Linked DNA regions of Homo sapiens: all the other regions are linked to region 1. Evidence: fine-mapped expression QTL. A gene starts in region 1. Each other region holds a variant in brackets. All regions are shown on one strand. Distances are between the middles of the regions. Region 1 holds the start of CCDC77 (coiled-coil domain containing 77). Region 2 overlaps KDM5A (lysine demethylase 5A). Region 3 overlaps SLC6A13 (solute carrier family 6 member 13).

Evidence for each region.
Region 2: its variant is fine-mapped to the expression of CCDC77 in whole blood (INTERVAL, PIP above 0.99).
Region 3: its variant is fine-mapped to the expression of CCDC77 in whole blood (TOPMed, PIP 0.97).

Annotation. Positions count from the first base shown.
Region 1 is chr12:398,181-406,366 of GRCh38, forward strand. It overlaps CCDC77 (coiled-coil domain containing 77), which reads left to right and starts at 3,464. Exons shown (of 13, transcript NM_032358.4): 1 at 3,464-3,504; 2 at 7,331-7,384. It overlaps LOC105369594 (a long non-coding RNA gene), which reads right to left and starts at 3,230. Exons shown (of 4, transcript XR_007063149.1): 1 at 3,138-3,230; 2 at 2,713-2,870. RefSeq lists enhancers at 2,988-3,307, 3,722-4,274.
Region 2 is chr12:284,306-292,491 of GRCh38, forward strand. It overlaps KDM5A (lysine demethylase 5A), which reads right to left. Exons shown (of 28, transcript NM_001042603.3): 28 at 1-1,357. The coding sequence ends at 1,151. Among named protein-coding and RNA genes, the nearest start is that of SLC6A13, 26 kb to the left of the region's middle. The variant C/A (reference allele first, on the strand shown) is at 3,933.
Region 3 is chr12:242,955-251,140 of GRCh38, forward strand. It overlaps SLC6A13 (solute carrier family 6 member 13), which reads right to left. Exons shown (of 15, transcript NM_016615.5): 3 at 725-859. Among named protein-coding and RNA genes, the nearest start is that of SLC6A13, 16 kb to the right of the region's middle. The variant G/C (reference allele first, on the strand shown) is at 4,984.

The DNA of each region.
Region 1 (8,186 bases):
CAATGCTGTTTGATAGCATTTTACCCATAGTAGAACTTCTTTCAAAGTTGAAGTCAATCCTCAAACCCTGCAACTGCTTTATCGACTAAGTTTATGGAATATTCTAAACCCTTTGTTGTCATTTTGGCAATGTTCACAGCATCTTCACCAGGAGTAGATTCCAGCTAAAGAAACCACTTTCTTTACTTATTCATAAGAAGCAACTCTTCATCCATAGTTTCATCATGAGATTGCAGCAATTCAGTCACATCTTCAGGTTCCACTTTTTTTTTTTTTTGAGACAGAATCTTGCTCTGTTGCCCAGGCTGGACTGCAGTGGCGCGATCTGGGCTCACTGCAACCTCTGCCTCCCGGGTTCAAGCGATTCTCCTGCCTCAGCCTCCCAAGGCTCCACTTCTAATTCTAGTTCTCTTGCTACTTCCACAGCATCTGCAGTTATTTCGTCCATGAAGTCTTGAACCCCCTCAAAGACATCCAAGAGGATTGGAATTAACTTCTTCCAAACTCCTGTTATTATTGATATTGACCTCCTCCCATAAGTCACAAATGTTCTTTTTAAAATTTTTTTATTAAATATATTTTTACTTTTTTTTTTTTGAGACACAGTCTTGCTCTGTCACTCAGGCTGGACTGCAGTGGCACAATCTCGGCTCACTGCAACCTTGGTCTCCCAGGCTCAAGCAATCCTCCCACCTCAGCCTCCCAAGTAGCCAGGTGCATGCCACCACTCCTGGCTAGTTTTTGTATTTTTTTATAGAGACAAGGTTTTCTATGTTGCCCAGGCTTGTCATGCACTCCTGAGCTTAAGTGATCCACCCACGTTGGCCTTCCAAAGTGCTGGGTTTACAGGTGTGAGACATCTCACCAAGCCAAGTCACAAATGATCTTAAGGACATCTAGAATGGTGGTGAGTCCTTTCCAGAAGGTTTTCGATTTACTTTGCCCAGATCCACCAGAGAAATCACTATGTCTGGCAGCTATAGCCTTATGAAATATTTTTTTTTTTTTGAGGCGGAGTTTCACTCTTGTTGCCCAAGCTGGAGTGCAATGGCACGATCTCAGTTCACTGAAACCTCCGCCTCCCAGGTTCAAGTGATTCTCCTGCCTCAGCCTCCTGAGTAGCTGGGATTACAGGCATGCGCCATCATGGCCAGCTAATTTTGTATTTCTAGTAGAAACGGGGGTTTCTCCATGTTGGCCAGGCTGGTCTCGATCTCCTGACCTGGTGATCCGCCCACCTCAGCCTCCCAAAGTGCTGGGATTACAGATGTGAGCCACCGTGCCCGGCCTGAAATATATTTCTTAATAAGACCTGAAAGTCAAAATGACTCCTTGATCCATGAGCTGCAGAATGTCTGTTGTGTTTGCAAGCATGAAAGCAACATTCATCTGTTTGCATACCTCCACCAGAGCTCTTGGGTGACCAGTTGCATTGTGAGTGAGAAGTAATATTTTGAAAGAAATCCTTTTTTTCCTGAGCAGTAGGACTTAAAATAAAACATACATAAAACGGTGAACTTAAAATACTCAGTTAACCATGCTATAAACATATATGCTGTCATCCAGGTTTTGTTGTTCCATTTATAGAGCACAGGCAGACTATATCTAACATAATTCTTAAGGGCTCTAGGATTTCAGGGATGTAAATGGGCACTGGCTTCAACTTAAAGTCACCAGTTGCATTAGCCCCTAACATGAGAGTCAGTCTGTTCTTAGAAGCTGTGAAGCCAGGTATTGACTTCTCTCTAGCTACAAAAGTACTACTTGGCATCTCCTTCCAATAAAAGGCTGGTTCATATATATCAAAAGTCTGTAGTTTAGTTTAGCCACCTTAATCAATTACCTTAGTTAGCTCTTCTGAATAACTTGCTGCGGCATCTACATCAGCACTTGCTGCTTCCACCTTGCACTTTTAAGTAACGGAAATAGCTCCTTTCCTTAAACCTCACGAACCAGCCTCCGCTATCTTCCACCTTTTCTTCTGCAGCTTCCTCACCTGTCTCAGCCTTCATTTTATTGAAGAGTTAGGACTTTGCTCCAGATTAGGCTTTGGCTTCAGGGAATGCTGTGGCTGGTTTGATCTTCTATCCAGACCACTCAAACTTTCTCTATATCAGCAATGTCTGTTTCACTTTCTTATCATTTTTGTGTTTACTGGAGTAGCACTTTTAATTTCCTTCAAAAACTTTTCCTTTGCATGCACAACTTGGCTAACTTTGGTGCAAGAAGACTGGCTTTCATCCTGTCTTGGCTTTCAACATGCCTTTTTCACTGAGCTTAATCATTTTCAGCTTTTTATTTAAAGTAAGAGATGTGTGACTCTTCCTTTCACTTGAACCCCCACTGTAGGATTGTTAATTGGTCTAATTTCAATATTGTTGTATCACAGGAATAAGGAGGCAAGAAGAGAGGGAGAAAGGCAGGGAGACTGCTGGTCTGTGGAGCAGTTAAAACATCCACAACATTTATGAATTAAGTTTGCCATCTTATATGGGCATGGTTCATGGTGCCCCTAAACAATTATAATAGTAATATAAAGGATAACAGATCAGCATAACATATACAATAATTATGAAAAAGTTTGAAATATTGTGAAAATTACCAAATGTGGTGCAGAGACACATAGTAAGCCTGTGCTGTAGGAAAAATGGCGCAGATAGATTTGGTTCCATGCAGAGTTGCCACAAACCTTACATTTGTAAAAACAGTTACCTGGGAAGCGCAATAAAGGAAAGTGCGAGCCTGTAGCAGATGCACGTTCCATTTAGACATCCTTAGGACTCACACCAGCGAAGGGCCCCAGCTTTTCCATACCAGTAGCTGTAATTCTGAGACGAAAGTGCTTTTCCCCCACCTTTACACCTTGCTTTCTGGAAAGATAAGACCATAATGGATTTTGAACTTGCTTTTATCATTAAAGCCCAGTGTCTTACATTTCTCCGGAAAAGGAAGCAGTGTTTGCTATGGAACAAATAGTAGAATTTTAATACATAGTCCCCTGACCGTAGAAACTGAACCTCAGGTCCTATCCTGGCTCTAGGCCACCCGGTCATGGAAGAAGAAACTTTTCTTAGAATCTTTATCTCTTGAGACAAGCTTGGAAATTACAACATATATGTACCATGAACGCGAAGTACCTGAGCTCAAAGCAGTTGAGCAATCTTAAGTGGGGGTGCCCGAAAGTGGTGCGTTCTGACCCCAAACGTCACACTACCCGTCCCTGGAGGAGCGGGTTGCAGCCCAGCTGCGTCGCCCCGCGCAGAGCTCCAGGCAGAAGAAAACTACATTTCCCAGAGACCTCTGCGCGGTCGGGAGCACCGCGAGGAGGGGCGAGATGGGGGCGGGCCTCTGTGTGAAGGCCCTTCCCATTGGTGCGCATTCCAAAGGGCCATGTAAACTTCTTCGCGATTGCACGGATTCAGGGACGCTCAGTGGCGCCGCGCCGCTCCTTGGTTTGACTTTTGTTTTTCAGTTGCGTTCCCTGACTCGGAGTCTTAGTGTGTCGTGAGTATAGAGTTTCGGGTTTGGGGTGAAGGGGTTAGGTAAGAAGCCTTGGGAAGAAAATCTGGTTAGGGAGAAGTAACTGCGGAAGCAGTGCGGAGGAGAGGACGTGAGCCTGAATGTGGTGTCCGTGGAGGGGCTGGGGACCGGAGGAGGAAAGCTCCAATGTGCAAAGGGAGAGACCTCAGGAGTGCTGGAGCGTTGGGACCTGGAGCAGTGAGGCGGTCGAGAATGGGATGAAGTGGGAAAAGGAGTACGGGATTCGGGCGCCCTGGAGATGCGTTCCGGTGTACTCTAACCCCACGCTGGTCTAGCTCTCAGTTTCCTCATTTGTGAAATAAGGGATAGTGAAAATACTGAACGGTTGTTGGGATAATAAATTGTACAGATTTGTCACGTGGCTAAAAGAAAAAAATTCAAAGTGCTACACAAATGTTAATTGTTAGTAGACAAGCTATAAGAATATATCTAAGCAAGGGTATTGGAGATAGGTGCAGAGACCCTAGCTGAAACCCGTTAATTTACCTATAAACAAAGGCATTGTTCCTTTGGAAGAGGCAATGAAGAGTAAGACGCGATTTCTGTCTGTAGGGAGCGCACGCTAGCATGGGAGAAACGATAGCAATAAAGCACTCTAATATGTTGACTTGTAGATAATTTCAAAGGCAGTTCTTTTGCACTTAGATCATTTTTGCTAAATCATTTTGGATGGGGAGACTCAGGAAAGAGAAAAAGGAGGTGGTATTTAAGATGAGTTTTCATGTACAGACTAGATTTTGTTAAGTGAAATTATGAGGGTTGTGGAGGGAGTTGTGTTCCAGCTAGAGGGAAGCTCATGAACAAAGGTATGGAGGCAGGAAAGTTATCTGGAAACGGTACATTTAGGAGAGTAGAGAGAAATAAGGCAGGAAAGTTAGGTTTGGCCCTTATGTAGAAAGCCATGAATTCTAGGCTAACAAATTGGATTTAATGCTTTAGGCTATGAGGTGCTACTGATGTATTTTATTAAAGAAAATGGTCCAGGAGACGCAAGGAGTAGGTAGAACCGTTAAGGTGTTGTAATGGTGTGGGTAAGAAGTATTGAGACTCTGAATTAACATGGTCATTGTGGAGATAAAATATACAAGATATTCATATGGTTAGACAGGAGGTTCAGAAGAATGAGTGATCAAATGATGAATTTAAGTTGCCAACTCCCGGTTGCTTGGAAACGCTGAATTAGTAACTAAAATAGGAAAGTCAGAAGGGGCATGTTTGGATAAAAAGATGATGTGTTAGGTTTAGGAAATGTTAGCTTTGAGATGCTAAAAAAATACCTAACTTGAGTGATTTCTTTTTTAAGTTAAACGTTTCAAGTGCCAGTGGGACTATGGGTGAAAATGTCCACTACATTTTTGTTAATTCAAATCAAGAGGTTGAAAGAGATGTCGTTTATTTATTCAACATGTAATTGTTACTTACTGTATGCCATGTAGTGTTTTAGATGACAGAGTTAATAATAAAAACAGGAGGAATAATGATGTTCCCAAAGAAATGGTTAGAGGAAATGATAAAGAAACTTGAAGACAGAACCTCTGAGCCAAGGGAGTAAAATTGTCAATAATAATAATAGTCCACATTTACTGAGTGCTTATATATGTGTCAAACACTGTCCCTCGGCCTTATATCCGTACACCAACCTATGACATAGAAGTAACTGAAATTTAGAGAGGATAACTTGCCTGAGGTACACAGCTAATAAGAGGCAGGGCTTTGACTCAAACCCAAGTCTGATATCAGAGCCCACATTCTCAACTACAAAGCAATATTTATTTTTATTATTATTTTTTCCAGGTAAGGTCTCACTCTGTCACCTAGGCTGGAGAGCAGTGGGGCAATCTCAGCTCAGTGCAGCCTCTGCCTCCCAAGCTCAAGCAATCCTCTGCCTCAGCCTCCTGAATAGCTGGGACTACAGGCACGTGCCACCACTCCCAGCTAATTCTGTAATTTTTGTAGAGACAGGGTTTCACCATGTTGCCCAGGCTGGTCTCAAACTCCTGACCTCCAGCAGTCCATTCACCTTGGCCTCCCAAAGTGCTGGCATTACAGGCATGAGCCACTGTGCCCAGCCTATTTTAATTGTTTTTTGAGACAGGGTCTTGCGCTGTTGTCCAGGCTAGAGTGCAGTGGCACGATCACTGCTCGCTGCAGCCTTGAACCCTCAGGCTGAAGTGATCCTCGCACCAAGCAGGTGGGACTACATTGCCACTGTGCCCAGCTAATTTTTAAAATTTTGGTAAAGACAGGGTCTTGCCATGGCCTGGCCATGCCAAGGTCCGGTCCCAAAGTGATATATTTTTAAAGGGTAGTTGGCACTACCAGGCACAGTGGCTCACGCCTGTAATCCCAACACTGGCAGGCAGAGGTGGGTGGATCATCTGAGGTCAGGAGTTCGAGACCAGCCTGGCCAACATGGCGAAACCCTGTCTTTACTAAAAATACAAAAAAAATTAGCCACAGTGGCAGGTGCCTGTAATCCCAGCCACTGGGGAGGCTGAGGCAGGAGAATCACTTGAACCCAGGAGGTGGAGGTTGCAGTGAGCCAAGATCGTGCCACTGCACTCCAGCCTGGGCTGAACAGAGTGAGACTCTGTCTCAAAAAATAAATAAATAAATAGGTAGTTGGCACTATCTAATTAAGAATACAAGTGAAGGAGTAACTATTGGATGGAGGAGGATAGAAACAGAAAAGAGCAATTGAATTTATTAATTTGGATGTCTGCTGACCAATAAGAGCTTGGTTAGATGTCATAGTAGAAGCCCGAGGCCTGGCTCAGTGGCTCATGCCTGTAATCTCAGCACTTTGGAAGGCCAAGGGAGGAGGATTGTTTGAGTCCGGGAGTTCAAGGCCAGCCTGGGCAACATAGCAAGGCCCCGTCTTGCAGCCAGAGAGGTGAGTGTAGACAACTTTTCGTAGACATGTGCAACAGTGAGGACAGTCACTATGAAGGAGAAGAGGGATTGCAGGTTGTTAGAAGGGTCTTTCAAAGCTTCAAATTACTTTTTTTTTTTTTTTTTTGAGACGGAGTTTCGCTCTTGTTGCCCAGGCTGGAGTGTAATGGCGCGATCTTGGCTCACCACAACCTCCGCCTCCCAGGTTCAAGCAATTCTCCTGCCTCAGTCTCCTGAGTAGGTGGGATTATAGGGATGCACCACCATGCCCAGCTAACTTTGTATTTTTAGTAGAGATGGGGTTTCTCCAGGTTGGTCAGGCTGGTCTTGAATTCCTGACCTCAGGTGATCCGCCTTCCTCGGCCTCCCAAAGTGCTGGGATTACAGGCAGGAGCCACTGTGCCCAGCCGCTTCAAATTACTCTTAAATGGCTTTGAAACAGTGAAATTTAACTTTAAGTTGTCACCCATATCCGTACAATGGAATTTTATTCAGCCACAAAAAGGAATGAAGTACTGATACATGGTACCACATAGGTGAACCTTGAAAACATTATGCTAAGTGAAACAAGACAGTCACAAAAGACCATATACTATGTGATTCCATTTATAGGAAAGTCCAGAATAGGGAAATCTGTAGAGACAGTAGGTTAGTGGTTGCTTAGGACTGGGAGACAGGGATAATAGCTGAAGGACACAGGGTTTTTTTCTTGAAGTGACGAAACTTCTAGAATGGACTGTGCTGATAGGTACACGTATCTGTGAATATACTAAAAATCATTGAATTTACACTTTGAATGAGTTTAATGGTGTACACAAATTACATTCCATAAAGCTGCTTTTTTAAAAAAATGTTACCCATAATCCTTCCATGCCAATCCAATAACTTTATTTTCTAGGTTATTTGGACAAGAGGCACATTGACCCAATTTGGAGACGTATTTTGGAAGGAGGTGAGTTTGGAGGAGGAGAGTAGTCTTTTAAAGGAGAGAATTAGAAGAAAGATGGCGTATTTGAAGGGTTGGCTGTAGAAGAAAACAAATGGGATGAGAGAAGCAGAAACAGATTTTTAAATCTAGATTGAATAGACTGGCCAGCAGAAGAAAAGGATGTTTAACAGTCTTTCAAATTCATATTGAGAGTTGTATATATATACATATACACTTAGTATGAGCCAGGCACTGTTTATGTTACTAGGGATACAGCAGTGAACATAATAGATAAAAACCCGCTGCCTTTAGTGAGTTTGCATATTCCAGTGTGGAGAGACAGACATTAAATATTAGATGGTTATAAGTGTTCAACTTTTTTTTTTTTTTTTTTTTAAGAGAGGGTCTCACTCTGTCACCCCAGCTGGACTGCAATGGCGTGATCATGGCTCACTGCAGCCTTGATCCCCCGGTGCAGGCGATCCTCCTACCTCGGCCTCCTGTTTAACTAGGACTACAGACATGTGCCACCACATCTGGCTAATTTTTTGTAGAGACAGGGTTTTGCCATGTTGCCCAGGCTGGTCTCAAACTCCTGGACTCAAGCAGTCTATCCGCCTTGGCCTCCCAAAGTGCTGAGATTACAGGCGTGAGCCACTTCAACTAGCCAAGGTTGTAAGTGTTAATGGAGAAAAGTAAAACAGAGAAGAGGGATGAGGTTGGTAGAGTGGTCAGGGAAGACTTCATCAAGAAAGTGACATTTTAGCCCTGAAGGAGGAGAGGGAGTAAGCCACATAGATAAATGGGGAAAGAACATCATAGCAAA
Region 2 (8,186 bases), 110 kb before region 1:
AAAAGTAAAAACAAGTCCTTTTTTTTTTTTAAAAATGGATTTACTAAAACAACTTCATCACCCAGAGGTACTACAACCCCACATCCTCTGATGAAGCCATGGTGTTATTCAACAGCATCTGCTGTGGGCCGTAGTTAGAAATCACCAGTGTTGGAAACAGCAGACATTGGGGTCAGGGCTGCAAGGCAAAAAGCTGTTATTTGCTGGTCTTGCTCATGGCCATGCCTGAAGCCTGGTGTCTGGAATACTTGTGAATGAAGTTTTCCCCGAAAAGCATGCATCACTGTGGCTCAGTAAGATAGTACGACTGGTCATCATCGTCATCTTCTTCTCTTTTTTTTTTTGGCAGAAGCCTGGATCCATGTACCTGCTCTTCCCTAAAATGTAGACCCAAGACAGCAAGACTTTTCAAAGCCAAAAAACGGCTCCTTGCCTTGTAGTAGGTTCTTCTCCTCAGAATCCAATCTAGTCAGATTTCTGATCTAGATGATATCCTCATCTTACAAAGATAAGGTGACCTGCCCCAGCTTGTGAGAGGTTCTCCTATTTGGGATGTTCTTCTAGCACAAACAAGCACAAATCGCTGAGGTCAATAGACTGTGATACCATTCCTTGACGTCTAACAGAAATAACTTTGGCCCTGTTACTCCTAGTTGTATCTTTAGGGCATTAAGTACCAGGTAACAGTGGAAGGAAAGTGGTACTCCAATCCCTCTCCAACTATCCCAATGAAGGAGATCCAAGCAATTAGCACCTTCAGTTGGTGCTGCTCCTAAGTTGTAAGCCTCTAACTACTATCAGCTGGACAAAAGCCACATCCTATATGCCCTGTTAGCACACCAATGTATTAATACTAACCAGCCACCCTAGAGCTCAATTAAGCATCTGGCCTTAATGCAGTAAACCACACTCAAAGGAGACATGAAATATTGGCTGTTGTACCAAAGAAGACACCCTCTGCATAGATATGTTGATAGAGAATGTAACCCACAGAGTCCATGCAAAGAGGAAGCCAGCACTAAGGGGACTTTCTCTGAAGGCCATTCATCTTTGGAAGCAACATTCCAAGTGGATATAAACCACTCTACTTGATGACTAAGGTCTCAATGTGGTCCATGTCCCCCCATGTCCCAAACTAACCAAGCATCTGCTAACTGGTCTCTTTAAGATCCTCCATTGGTAGTTTGTAGCTCATTATGAAGGAAGGAGGTGGTGCTGGACCTGGGCTAACTGGCCCCTGCTTCTTTGCACAGTTTATACAGATGTAATCTTCATTTTCAGCCATTTCTGGAGATACACCCACACAAACTTGATGAAACCACTCATCACAGCCACCATCACATTGTACCCAGTCTACCTGTAGGAAACAAGATTGGGGAATGTTTAGGTTACATAAACATTAAGCCTAGAATAAAAGCAAACCAAAGAGCTTTCTTGGCTTAAACAATAGCAAACAACTGGGATGTCTAGATAGGCAATGACTTCTTATGGGGTTATTTTTTAAAGAAAGAAGCTGAGAAGTTAATACCCCAAAATTATATTTCACCATAGTGTGTCCACAAAATTAGGCCTCTTAGGTACTCCATTACCTCATGAATACCTGGGGCTCCTTGTGAGGCAGAAACATGTTTGAGAAAAATTTGACAAAAAGGGAACTTCTAATAGAGCAGCCAAGTAGTTTTAGCTAATATTAACAATTTCTAGGCTCTAAGACAATGCAATTATCAATCAAGAAAGGAAGAGTACAACAATGTGAAGGCAATCCTGTGTATTAGCTTTATTTCAAAGAGATAAGCCAAAGTACTAAGAGCATTAAATACCTTTTTAGAAAAGCAGTCACATAGGCCACTTTTAAAACTAATATTTTTTATTCTTCTCTTCTTCCGTTACAAATACAACTCCCTATAAAAAGTTAGCAAATATCAGATGTCAAATCTTACAAATTAACCAATTATAACAGTCAAAGACACAGGTCAATAGATCACTCTGGGGTTTAAAATTAAAATCTGAAAAACTGATAGGTCAGTGGCAGGTGTCAAACTTTGACCCTTCTGACAATACTGTGATTACAGGAGGCTAGGAAGGGATTGTAGTTTGGTGACTTTAAGCCTTGGACTTAAGAGTTAACAATAAAGTGACTTTTGGCTTTTATATTTGAAGGCTGATTGTGGTAGTTTTTACAGCTAATGTCATGGCAGACAAGAACATTTAAGATGAAAAGAGCTACTCTTCCTCACCTCAATACCAAGGTTGGTCATTTCATTGGTAACGTTAAGAAGCCACTTAAAACCATGAGCTTTACCAGATATCAAAGTAAGGAATAGAAAGGGATCCAAGAAGTACCTCTATACAACTTAAGAGAAAGAACAGATGAAGGAGGTTTTGGCTAGGTAAATGAGTTTCATTCATAGCAACTGAGTAGTTTTCAAAATTAGTTTCCATGTCCTATAAAAAACTGTCAAAACCACAGTAGTCACGTCAGTAGTTTTAGGCTTGTAATAAGGGGTGGGAAAAATAATTTGTCAAAATGATATTCTACTTGTTTTGTTCCTATGCTAAAGTTCTAGATCTTAAGAGACAATATTGTGTTAACATCAAGATTACTCAACTCAGAAGCTCTGAGTTCCAGTGTGTATCATTTCAGGCAAGTCATTTAACCTGAGTGACTCAATTTCCTCATCTGAAAATGGAGATGACATTAATTACAAGATTACCGAGAGGATCCAATGAAATAATGTATGGCAAAACACCTAATTCACTGCCCAGGATACTGGAGGCACTTTCCAGTCATGGTCTCATGGCTCTACTCATTACCCTACACTACACAAAACGTTCTGCACCTTGATACAACTGTCGGCAGCACTGCTTTTCAAAGTGTGTAGACCACTGGCATCAGAATCATCTATTGTGTTTGTTTAAAATGTAGCTGGGACCCATCACCCTATGAACTCAGAATATCTGGGGAGTACAAGCCAGAAGCTTACATTTTTAATCAGCTCCCAAGTGATTCTCATATATTCTAAATCCGATCATTGCTGGCCCTCTGTGATATCACTTCCTGTAAATTCAGAGCAACTTAACAATACCTTCCTAAACTGATTTTTGTTCTGTAATTGATTGTTTAGCTTCTGAAGTCTGTGCAATAAAAAAACTCACCAAAATGTTCCTATTGTAGCAAACTAATCAGAGACCAAAAAAAAAAAAAAGGGGGAAATAATGGCATCTGTGCAAAATGTAAAAATTAAAGTACTGCAAGCAGTAAAAACACAAAATGCTAGCTGTAGAGTACGTGCACTCAGAGTGAGTGTTTTGGCTGTTTGGGACTGGTAAAGGGAACTGGATAGATAAACTGTGGTTCTCTGTGCTGCCCAGGTTTGAGATACCATGCTTTTTATAATGGTACCTGTGAACCAACAGTTACCTTCACCCTTACACCTCCAACCCTCTTTCTTAATCCAGTCTAGTCCCCATTCATGCTAATCCATTGGATAAGAATGTTATTAATGTATCAGTATTTGCTACAAAGAAAAGTGTCCCATGTCTTTTTAAATCTAGTGTTTGCACTATACTCACTGGCTTACAATTTCCCAAAATTCTCTTACAAATAAGACAATACTTTCCCTTTTGTGATTTTGACTAAAGGTCCCTTCCTAAGCCCAGATCTTCTACCATTTCAAAAGAGTATATAACCTTCCTTGAGATACTGGTACACAAATTCTAACCTAGACTACAGGTTATATAACAATTTAGCCTGATAATAGAACAAGCAAAAAATAGTCCTTCTCTTTACCAATATCTTTTTTATCATGTTCATCTACTAACAATCAACTCTGAGTTCTACTTTTGTGTGAAAGGCCCACAGCAACATAAAGCAAACTAAAGTTTGGGATGTCAACTGAATCCACAGATGATTTTGACACAGGGGCAACAGA[C/A]TATGTAGTATCCTGAAAACTCAAGAACACAGAATTTGGATAACTGTATAAATTGTCATTTCCCCCCCTTTCATTATTTCTAGGAGATGTATTTAGTGAATCACAAAAATAATTACTAAACTTCACAGCTATGAACTGTTCAAATATTAAATGATAGGAGATTTTACATTACAGTACAAATAGGTTACTATGTTTAGATCTGGGGGAAATGTCTGTTTCAAAAAGAAATATATTAAAAAGAGGAAATATTAGTTTAATATTCATGTTTTGCTGTATGGTTTCATATTCACACTTAATAAAAAATATTTGGCATAGTATATTTTGTTCATTTCTTAGAGAATAGTACTGCACTGGGAAAAAAGAAAATCTGGTAATTTAGTGATATTCTTAGCTTACTAATTAAACTGAGCTTTTGTTATTTTGGCATTTAATATCTTTTGCACCCCAAGTTTCCTAGCAAAAGCTGGATTTGAAAAAGGAAAACAATTCACTAAGTGAACTACAACATATGTTCAGAATCCTTGTGTATATTTTCTTGGTGCTCTCAATATTCAGTGACCAATCCTCCCAATTTGCCAAGGAATGACAGATTTCTCAGCATGTGGGAATTTCAGTGCCAAAACTGGGAAAGTCCCAGGGAAACTGGGACAGTTAGTCACTCTAGCTCAACATCATGCGCGTGCACGCGTGTGTGTGTGTATTACACACATTTAGGTAACTTAACCTTTGCTTATCTGTGCTAAAAGGAGATATGAACTAGTAAAGCCGCTGGAAATGCAAATACTTTGATTGAGGCAACACCCCCATGAAAATCTTAAATCAGAGTGGCTAATAAATAGTAAAAATGAGAGTTCATAGTCTCTTAATTTACCACACAAAACTTCTCATGGAAGTAGGAATGGGTAAAGGAAAAGGCCAACAATAAGAGGGTTAAAAAAAGTGAAGAGAAAAAGACTATTTTCATAAGTAAAATTATTAAATATTTATTCTAATACAGAAGAAAAATACTACTTAAATTAGTAGCCTGAGAGAATTTGATATTTTTTCTAGTTAACTTGTTTTATCTTTGGTACCAATAAGACTGAATAAAGAGTTCAGAGACAAAAAGATTCTGAACTTCAAAATTAATTTTTTAAAAAGTTTTGTTAATATTAATTTTAGCTTGACATTAATTTAATAATCAAAGGAAAAATTATTTTTTCAAAATCTTTTACATTATTCTGGTATTGTCTTCCTTTTTCTAAAACATCTTGAAACTGAGGCTAGGCACATTTAACTAGCCTCATTTAATCTTTCTTTTAATTTTTAAAAGAGCATTTCTCAAAAAAAGAGGTGGGCATAGTGGTGTGTGCCTGTAGTCCCAGCTATTCAGGAAGCTGTGGCAGGAGGACTGCTGGAGCCCAGGAGATCAAGGCTGCAGTGAGCTATGACCACACCACTGCACTCCAGCCTGGGCAACAGAGTAGGACCCTGTCTCAAAAAAAAAAAAAAAAAAAAATTTAATCTGCATATTTTGGGGGAAAAGTCCCAGTAATTATTAGTTAGAGAAATAATAGTAATTACTGGTCAGAGAATTCACCTAAAAACAAGTGAACCCTGGAAGTTATTTTTTGCTGCATGGTATCTTAAAGAACAAACTGGGCTAAAAAGCATGATTTTTTCTTTCTTTCTTTTTTTTTTTTTTTTTTTTTTTACATCATCTTGCCAATCTTTTTCTTTTTGAGACAGGGTCTCCTGTGTAGCCCAGACTGAAGTGCAGTGGGGCACTCACAGGTGCGATCATAGCACATTAACTATAGCCTTGAACTCCTGGACTCAGGCAATCCTCCTGTCTCAACCTTCTGAGTAGCTGGGACTACCAGGATGGGCCACTGCAGCTGGCAAAGGCATTCTTTTCTTATTTTGCTCTAAAGATGTGTGCTGTATATTAATTGTTTTCTCAGAGAAACACTAAACACTGAGAAAGTTTTAACATTCTTTACAGAAATTTTTATAGAACTGTAACTTTTATTTAGCAAAATCAATGTCAGGAACAAACATGTAGAACCATAAAAACTGCAAAACAGCAGTAACAGGCAAAATATCTATAATCTGAAATAACTTCTGCTTAAAACGAAACACGTTATAGAAATAAAACACTATTTTATATAAACTAACAACATAGGGTGGGGCACACGTTGCTCACCTTTACGTATCGTAACAGTTCAAAATAGACATTTTCTCTGAGCACTCAGCCAAATCTCCTTTTGCTCCATCAAAATGTAGATGATAACTCTAGATTTTGTTTAAAGATTTTGTTTAAAAAATACCTATAATATTAGGAGCAAATCTCACAGTTCCTTCAAAAATAATGATCACATCTTAGCACTTACGTTGCATTTTTTGGTTAACAAGTGCTTTCATAGAGATTGTTTTGTCTTATCATCATAACCCTTTGAATAGGCAGGGCACCTGTTAATTTGACAATTTCATAGCAAATGAAAAAAAAAACGGCCTAAGTGTTTATATTGCTATAAGAAGACAACAGGAATAATGGATGAACTGAATCCTATTTAAATGCTGAGCAGAAGGGAGGGGAAAGATTAAGTGATAAGGAGAAAGAGTATAAAAATAAGACGAAAGGCTCATGATAGATGTAAACATTATAGAAAGAATGTCAGGAAAGTTTAAAAAGGAAACATCCTACCTTGCTGCTAGTCTTTAAACTACCATAAAATTAAGGAAGAAAAGGGAGAAGGTTCTGCCAATAATGAACTGCTACACTTTGATACCCAAAGAGAAAGTTAACTCTTCATCAGCCTCTTTAACAAACAAACTCAGATGGAAATAAATTCAAAATTAAAGATAAAAATAATATGCACATATATATTAAAATGCTTTAAAATGTTTATAATATAGGAAGATGCTTATAAAATGAACAGATGCAAGTCAGTAAACAGTCTGACAATGATATAAAACAAACGCCATAGAAAAAAATTGGAAGGAAACACTAAAATATTTATAGCTGTCTGCCTTGGAAGATTAGACTATAGGATATATATTTTACTATGCACATTCCAAAAAATGAATAGAATACCCCTAATACATCTCATTTAAATATGTGTCATTTAGTTTTGGAATGTGTTTTTGTACTTACATCTCAATTATTGATGGGGTAAGGTGTTAGTGGAGAGAACCTGGTCTGACAGCCAAGATCTAGGGTTCTACTTTTGGTTTTGCTACTAACTAGCTCTGTAACTTTGGTCACATAATTACCTTCCCTGAGTCCTGGTTGCATCATCTGTAAAATGAGCAGCCTGAACAAAGTAACCTGTTGGTGCCTTCAAGCTCTAAAAAGGTTTAAGTATTTCATTGAAAAAGTGAGGGCATAACCTATAGGGAACAGTGATGCAGTTTTATTTACTGTTTATATTTTCAAACTGAGGCACTATTAGAATTCTAAATATCAAATAGTATAATGAGCATAATAAAATTAAAACTACAGATTTATCAATATTCTTGATAAGAGCCGTAACAGGTGCCTCCAATCATTTAAACAACTGGAATTTTTCATAAAGTCTGACTATTACTCTCAGAAGTTCATACTGTCAACATTATATTTAAAGAACGGCCATAAGAGAATTACTATACTTAAAATTTAGGGTTGGAAATTTTAAAACAATGCTTTTTTTTTTTTTTTTTTGAGACAGAGTTTTGCTCTTGTGGCCCAGGCTGGAGCACAATGGAGCCATCCTGGCTTACTCCAACCTCTGCCTCCTGGGTTCAAGCGATTCCCCTGCCACAACCTCCCAAGTAGCTGAGATTACAGGTGTCCGCCACCACACCCTGCTCATTTTTTGTATTTTTAGTAGAGATGGGGTTTTACCATGTTGGCTAGGCTGGTCTCGAACTCCTCACCTCAGGTGATCCGCCCACCTCGGCCTCCCAAAGTGCTGGGATTACAGGCGTGAGCCACACCTTGCCTGGCCTAAAATAATGCATTTATAGGTTTGAATTATTTGTTGCAAAAGATTTGAAGAAAATCATATTCCATTTAGGAGGGTGCCCACAGCTCTGAGTGTAAGATATGGACTAAAAGTTTCAAGTCTTTGGAATACCATCTTAATGCAATTTGCCACAGCTCTTACAATACTGGCCCAGGATTTTTTTCAGGCCATTGTGACTATCCGACAAGGTATTTAGTTCTCTGAGTCACCTTATAGGGAAGGCACAAGATTATTCTGAAACTTGTTATGCCCACTGCATATGAAATGC
Region 3 (8,186 bases), 160 kb before region 1:
ATGGAGAAATAATGAAATTAAATACTGTAAATTTTAAATACTTGTGTCAAGATAGAACTTTTTTTTTTTTTTGAGATGGAGTTTTGCTCTTGTCACCCAGGCTGGAGTGCAGTGGTGCAATCTCGGCTCGCTGCAACCTCTGCCTCCCAGGTTCAAGAGATTCTCCTGCCTCAGCCTCCTGAGTAGCTAGGATTACCGGTGCCCACCACCATGCCTGGCTAATTTTTTGTATTTTTTGTATTTTGTATTTTAGTTTCACCATGTTGGCCAGGCTGGTCTCGAACTCCTGACCTCAGGTGATCCACCTGCCTCGGCCTCCCAAAGTGCTGGGATTACAGGCATGGGCCACCACGCCCGGCCAAGATAGAACTATGAATGAAATAATTTTTTCTCATTTAAAGTTCTCTTTTAAAATGTTTATAATTGATTTAAATATGTCTTAAAATACAACAACATTGTTATGTGTTTAAAACATATGGCTAAAGTGGCTTTGCACTCTACTTACCTAACCTAAAGCCTCTGCCCCATCCTCACTGCTGTTTCTTGCCCATTCTCTGATAGATCAGCTGACTAGCTCAGTATGCAGCCCACAAACCAAGGGTTTAGCATAGAGACTCGGGATCTTATCTTAACCTCAGAACTGCTACTAATCACTCAAGTCATTCCAAACAAGGTTTATAACCACGAATGAAGACGCTTTGGAGTCAGGTACAGAGCTACTCACCCTCAAAGATGGGGCAGATCTTCCTCCAGGCTGTGACGCCTCCCTGGCTAGTGTACTGGCCTAGTGCTGTCTCCAGAAGGAAGACAGGAATGCCACAGGTAAAGAGGAAGACGAGGTAGGGGATGAAGAAGGCACCTGTGGTTAGAAAACAGGCTGTTCATTTCCTGGGACTATTCTCCTCATGGTCTGCATTCACCTCCTCCCATTACCAACCCATACTGCCAGTCAGAATCTCGGAGGCAGAGAACATGCAAAACTGCAGGAGACAGCTGTCTAGATGTTTGGAACATAGCAGAGATCAAGAGTCACCCCATTATCTAAGATCTACACAGCCTCTTGCCTTTTTTCACTGCAGTTTCAGTCTATACCTATTAAAGTTTGTTCCCCACTGAACAATTACTGCTTAACACATAACTTGTGGCAATAACAAGGAGCTTATTAAATAATGGATGTCTAGGAGCATTGGCACAGCCCACAGTCTATAATTCTTTTCAAAGAAAGCATTGCTCTTAACGTCAGGTAGTCTTTTAGTAAGCTGAAATCAGATGCCCTTTCAGTCATTGTTATGGTTTGAATGTATCCCCTAAAGTTCGTGGTTGGAAACTTAATTCCCTATGCAACAGTGTTGGGACGTGGAGCCTAATAAGATGTAAGTCATGAGGGCTCTGCCCTCATGAATGGATTAATGTTATTACTGTGAGACTGTGTTTGTTATAAAAGTGAGTTTGGGCCAGGCACAGTGGCTCACGCCTGTAATCCCAGCACTTTGGGAGGCTGAGGTGGGAGGATCGCTTGAGCCCAGGACTTCAAGACCAGCCTGGGCAACATGGGAAAACTCTGTCTCTAAAAGAAATACAAAAAATTATCTGGGCATGGCTGTGTGTGCCTGTAATCCTAGCTACTCGGGAGGCTGAGGTGGGAGGATTGATTAAACCTGGGAGTTCGAGGCTGCAGTGAGCTGTGATTGTGCCACTGCCCTCCCTCCAACCTGGGTGACAGAGCAAGACCCTGTCCAAAAAAAAAAAGTGTATTTGGCTCTCTGTCTTTTATATGAATATTCTCTTGCCTTTCTGCCTTCTGCCATGGGCTGACACAAAGAAGAAGGCCCTCACCAGAGGTGGACTGCTTGCCCTGGACTTCCCAACCTCCAAAACTATAATAAATAAATATCTGTTCCTTATAAATTACCCATCTCAGGTGTTCTGTTGTAGCAACACAAAATGAACTAAGCTAGTAATCTGTCTCCTTCTGTTTTTATAAGCATTGGCGGAGACAAGACTACTGATGCCAGATATACTGGTATTTTCCCTACCATGGACCTGTCATCTGCTGGCAAAGTGGACAGCACAGTTCATAGGACACAGAGTACCAGAGAAGACAGAACTGCACAGACAGGAGAATCTGCAGAGGGTCCCCCTCAAGCTTCCAACTGAGTACTAGTCAGTGCATATGTGTGAGAAAACTGAGGTGAGGGAAAGAACCATTCAAAATGATTAAAAGTAATGGTGCTCACACACTGCCAGAGTAAATAATCTCAAGATTCACCAGGCATTAGGCAGAGTACGCAGAAGGGCATTTCCTCAGTAACGGGGAATAATTATCCCTAGACCGAGCACACTTCTATTGCTACCTAACCAATCTTAAAAGCAAGATATAAAAAGAGCAAGTAACTTCACTGATCCCAGAACAGAGCTAAAGAATATTTACAGAAATACGAAATTGGCCGGGTGCAGTGGCTCACGTCTGTAATCCCAGCACTTCGGGAGGCTGAGGTGGACAGATCACCAAGTCAGGAGTTCAAGACCAGCCTGGCCAATATAGTGAAATCCTGTCTCTACTAAAAATACAAAAATTAGCCTGGCATGGTGGCACGCACCTGTAGCTCCAGCTACTTGGGAGGCTGAGGCAGGAGAATTGCTTGAACCTGGGAGGCAGAGGTTGCAGTGAGCCGAGATCGTGCCACTGCACTCCAGCCTGGGCAACAGAGTGGGACTCTGTCGCAAAAAAAAAAGAAAGAAAGAAAAGGCAGGGTGTGGTGGATTACGCCTGTAATCCCAGCACTCTGGGAGGCCAAGGCAGGCAGATCACGAGGTCAAGAGATCGAGACCATCCTGGCCAACATGGTGAAACCCCATCTCTAGTAAAAATACAAAAATTAGCTGGGCGCGGTGGCTCAAGCCTGTAATCCCAGCACTTTGGGAGGCTGAGGCAGGTGGATCATGAGGTCAGGAGATCGAGACCATCCTGGCTAACACAGTGAAACCCCATCTCTACTAAAAATACAAAAAAATTAGCCGGGTGTGGTGGTGGGTGCCTATAGTCCCAGCTACTTGGGAGGCTGAGGAAGGAGAATGGCGTGAACCCAGGAGGCGGAGGTTGCAGTGAGCCGAGATTGTGCCACTGCAATCCAGCCTGGGTGACAGAGCAAGACTCCATCTCAAAAAATAAAAGTAAAAATAAATAAATAAATAAATAAATAAAATACAAAAATTAGCTGGGCATGGTGGCATGTGCCTGTGGTCCCAGCTACTTGGGAGGCTGAACCAGGAGAATTGCTTGAACCCGGGAGATGGAGGTTGCAGTGAACCGAGATCGCTCCACTGCACTCCAGCCTGGCAACAGAGTGAGACTCTGTCTCAAAAATAAATAAATAAATAAATAAATTATCCAGCAACCCATAAAGCAAAAATATTACCAGGTCTGGTATTCAATCGAAAATTACCAGGAAAGCAAAGAATCAGGAAAATGTTACTCATAGCAAGGAGATTGAACCTGACCCATAATTTACAAAGATGTTAGAATTAGCAGATGAGAATATTTAAAAGTTATTATAACTGTATTGCAAGTGTTCCAAAAGTTAGGGATATAAAAGATATTGAAAAAGACCCAAATAAAACTTCTGAACATGAACACTACAGTGTGTGAGATTTAAAGAAATACATTGGATGGGATTAATGTTAGTAGGCAGAGCAGAAGAAAAGATCAGTGACCTTGAACCATAATAGAAACTATCTAAAATAAAACACAGAGAGAAAAAAGAACATTTTTGCTGGGCATGGTAGTTCATGCCTGTAATCCCCGCATTTTGGGAAGCCGAGGCAGGTGGATCACCTGAGGTCAGGAGTTCAAGACCAGCCCAGCCAACATGGTGAAACCCTGTCTCTACTAAAAGTACAAAAATTAGCTGGGTGTGGTGGTGCATGCCTGTAATTCCAGCTACTTGGGAGGCTGAGGCAGGAGAATCACTTGAACCTGGGAGGTGGAGGTTGCAGTGAGCTGAGATCATACCACTGCACTCCAGCCTGGGTGACAGAGTGAGACTCCATCTCAAAAAAAAAAAAAAAGAAAGAAAGAAAAGAAAGAAAGAAAAGAAAAAAGAAATTTTTTAAAAAGAACAGGTATGCCTAAGTGGTGAGACAGCTTCAAAAAGCCTAATGTAATGGGAGTCTGTGAAAGAAAGAAAAGGGTGAGAAAAAGCTTACAGAAATAATAGCTGAAAATTTTACAAATTTTATGAAAACTATAAACCTATAGATCCAAAAAGTTCAACAAACACCAAGATTAAAAAAAAAATGAAAAAAAACTAGTCCAAGGTGCATCATAATCACATTACTTAAACCGGAATATGGAGCTTTTAAGAGAAAACCTTAAAAGTCACCAGAGAAAAACGACACATATGTACAGACAAAGATAAGAATAACATCAAATTTCTCATTTAAAACAATGCAAAAGAGAAGACAGTGATAAGGAAGCACATTTGCTGAAGCAATAAAGGAGGAGGGAGAAAGCTGTCAACCCGGAATTCTATACCCAGCAATAATACTGTTCAAAAAGGAAAGTGAAATAACTGTTTCTTAAGACATGCAAAACCTGAAAGGATCTACCACAAGTAGAACTGAACTACCAGAAATGTGGAAGAAACTCCTTCAGGGAGAATGAAATGATATCACCAGATAGAAATATGAATCTATACAAAGTAATAAAAAGCTTTAGAAATAGTAATTACATAGATAAACATAGAGAATGTTTTTCTTATTATTCAAATATTTTTTAAAAGATAATTGACTGGTTAAACAAAAATAAAAACAATGTAATATTGATTTTATAACATATAAAAATGTATAAGAAGAGCACAAAGGTTAGGAGGAAAGAAATGAAATTGTAATATTTTAAGGTTCTTATATATAAAGTGGTACATTATCACTTGAAGATAAAGTGTGATAAGTTAAAGATGTATACTACAAAGTTTAAAACAATCA[G/C]TAAAATAACACAACAAAGTTACAGCTAATAAGCCAACAAAAAGAAGAAAGCTAACAATGGAATAAGAAAAAATATTCAATTATTCCAAAAAAAAAGCAGGAGGAGAGGGAAGGGGGAAACAAATAACTGATAGGACAAAGAGAAAACAAATAATAGGATGATAGAGTTAAACCTAATTACATGGATAATCGTATTAAATGCAAATGGTCTAAACGTCCCAAATAAAAGGCAGAGATTGTTAGACTGGCTTTTAAAACCTGACAAGACTCAACTATATGCTGCCTTAAGAAAATGCACTTTGAATAAAAAAGACATGAAGAGGTTAAAAGTAAAAGGATAGAAAGATATACCATGCTGGGAGGCTGAGGCAGGAGAAATGGAGTGAACCCCGGGGGGCGGAGCATGCAGTGAGCCGAGGTTGCACCACTGCACTCCAGCCTAGGCGACAGCAAGACTCCGTCTCGGAAAAAAAAAAAAAAAAAAAAAGATATACCATGCTAACACTACTCAAAATAAATCTGTAAAGTTTATCTTAATGTCACACAAAGTAAACTTCAGAGCAAAGAATATTACCAAGGGTAAAGAAGGTAATTTCATAATGATTAAAGGGTCAATTAATCAAGAGGGTCAATTAATCAATCAGTATTTCAAGTGCATATTCACCTAATGACAGAGCTTCAAAATGCACGAAGCAAAAACTGACAGAACTACAAAGAGAAACATATAAACTAATTCCTGATAAATGTTAAAAACGTTAATAGCCCTCTCTCAATAATTTATAGAATAAGTATACAGAAAATCAGTATGGATATAACAGATTTGAAAATTATATCCACCAGCTCAACTTAGTTGACATTTATTGAACATTCTACCCAACAGTCCAACAGCAGAATATGCATTAGTTTCAAATGAACATGGAATATTCCACCAAGATGGGCCCATATCCTGGACCAGAGATCAAATCTCAGTAAGTTTAAAAGCATCCAAGTAATACAAAATTGGTTCTCTGACTAAATTAGAAATCTATCAGAGAAAGACATTTGGAAAATTGCCACCTATTTGGAAATTAGGTAACACATTTCTAAATAGCCTATGGCTCTACTGAAGTAATCAAAAGAGAAATTAGAAAGTATCTTGAATGGAATGAAATGAAACCCAGTATCATAATTTGTGGCATACTGCTAAAGCAGTACCTAGGAGATTTACTAAATGATAAAAGAAGAAAAGTTTCAAATCAATTACCTCGGCTTCCACCTTAAGAAATCAGAAATTATTGCTGAAATGAGGGTGTAGTTAAGAAAAAAAGAAAGAAAGAAATGAGAAGGATAAGAGCAAATGAAAGCCAAAGTAAGTCAAAGGAAATAAAAATCAGAGTGGAAATCAATAAAATGGAAAACAGGAAAGCAACAGAGAAAATCCATGAACCAAAAGCTGGTTCTTTGAGATAATAAAATTGATAAAATTTTAGAAGACACAAATTATCAGCATGACAAATGAGATGTATCCTCAGTAAAGATTCTATAGATATTAAAACAATAATAAGAAAAGATATGAAGAACTTTATGCCAGTAAGTGCAACAATTTAGGTAAAATAAAAAACGTAACTACCAAAGCCCACTCAAAAAGAAACAGTCTGAATAGCCCTATAACTATTAAGGAAAATTCATTTTTGGTTTAAACCCATCCCACAAAAATTTCCAGGCTCAAATGACTTCAGTGGTGAATCCTCCAAATATTTAAGGAAGAAATAACAGCAATTCTACACAAACTCTTCCAAAAAATTGAAAAGATGGAATGCTTACCCAACCAATTTTATAAAGTGAGCATTACCCTGATAATAAAAGCAGACAAATACATTATAAGAAAAGAAAGTTAAAGATCAACATATTTCATGAACATAAATGCCAAAATTCTAAATGATTTTAGGAAATCAAATCTAACAATATGTTAATAGGACAATATATTATATAGTAATGTTTATCCCAGAGATACAAAGTGGGTTTAACATTTTAAAAAATCAACATAGTGTTGTAGTCTCCAGCTGTTATAATAAATGGATAAATAAATAATGTGACTCATCCTGTTAACAAATTACAAAAGAAAAACTATATGATCATTTCATAGGTACAGTAAAGTATTTGACTGAATCCAACAGTCATTCCTAATAAAAACTCCCAGCAATGATGAGGAGAAGAGAACTTCCTCAACTTGATAGAGGGCATCTACAAAAAAACCCTACAGCTAACATCATACTTAATTGTAAAAGACTGCTAAGATTGAGAATAAAACAAGTGTCTATTCTTACTACTTCTATTCAATACTGTACTGGGGATTCTAGCCATAGAATCTAGCCAATAAGGCAAGATAAGGAATTAAAGGTTATTCCGATTTAAAAGGAAAAAATAACACTGCTTTATTCTCAGAAGACATGATATTCTACAATGAAAATCCTTTGGAATGCACACAAAAAAAAACCTATTAGAACCAATCAGTGAGTTTAGCAAGTTTGCAGGATACAGGATGGGCATACACAAATCAATTGTGTATGTATTAGGAATAAACAACCATAAATTAAAATGTAGGAAATAATACCATTTACAATAGCATCAAAAATATTAAATACTTAGGAATAAATCTGACAAAAGTTGTGAAAGATATATGTACACTCACAACTACAAAACATTGCTGAGAGAAATTAATGAAGAGCTAAATAAATGGAGAGTCATACCATATTCAGGATCAGAAGACTTAATATCATTAAAATGTCAATTCTTTCCAAATTGATCTATAGATTTAATACAATCCTAATCAAAAGCACAACAGACTTTTTTGTAGAAATTCACAAATTCTTTCTAAAATTCATCTGGAAATGATAAGGACCCAAAATAGCCCCCCAAAAAAAAAAAAAAAAAAACCTAAAAACAGGGCCTGGCGCAGTGGCTCATTTCTTTTTGGGAGGCATTTTGGGAGCATTCTGGGAGGCCAAGGTGGGTGGATCACGAGGTCAGGAGATCGAGACCATCCTGGCCAACACGGTGAAACCCTGTCTCTACTAAAAATACAAAAAATTAGCCGGGCATGGTGGTGGGCACCTGTAGTCCCAGCTACTCGCGAGGCTGAGGCAGGAGAATTGCGTGAACCCGGGAGGCGGAGCTTGCAATGAGCTGAGATCGCGCCACTGCACTCCAGCCTGGGCAACAGA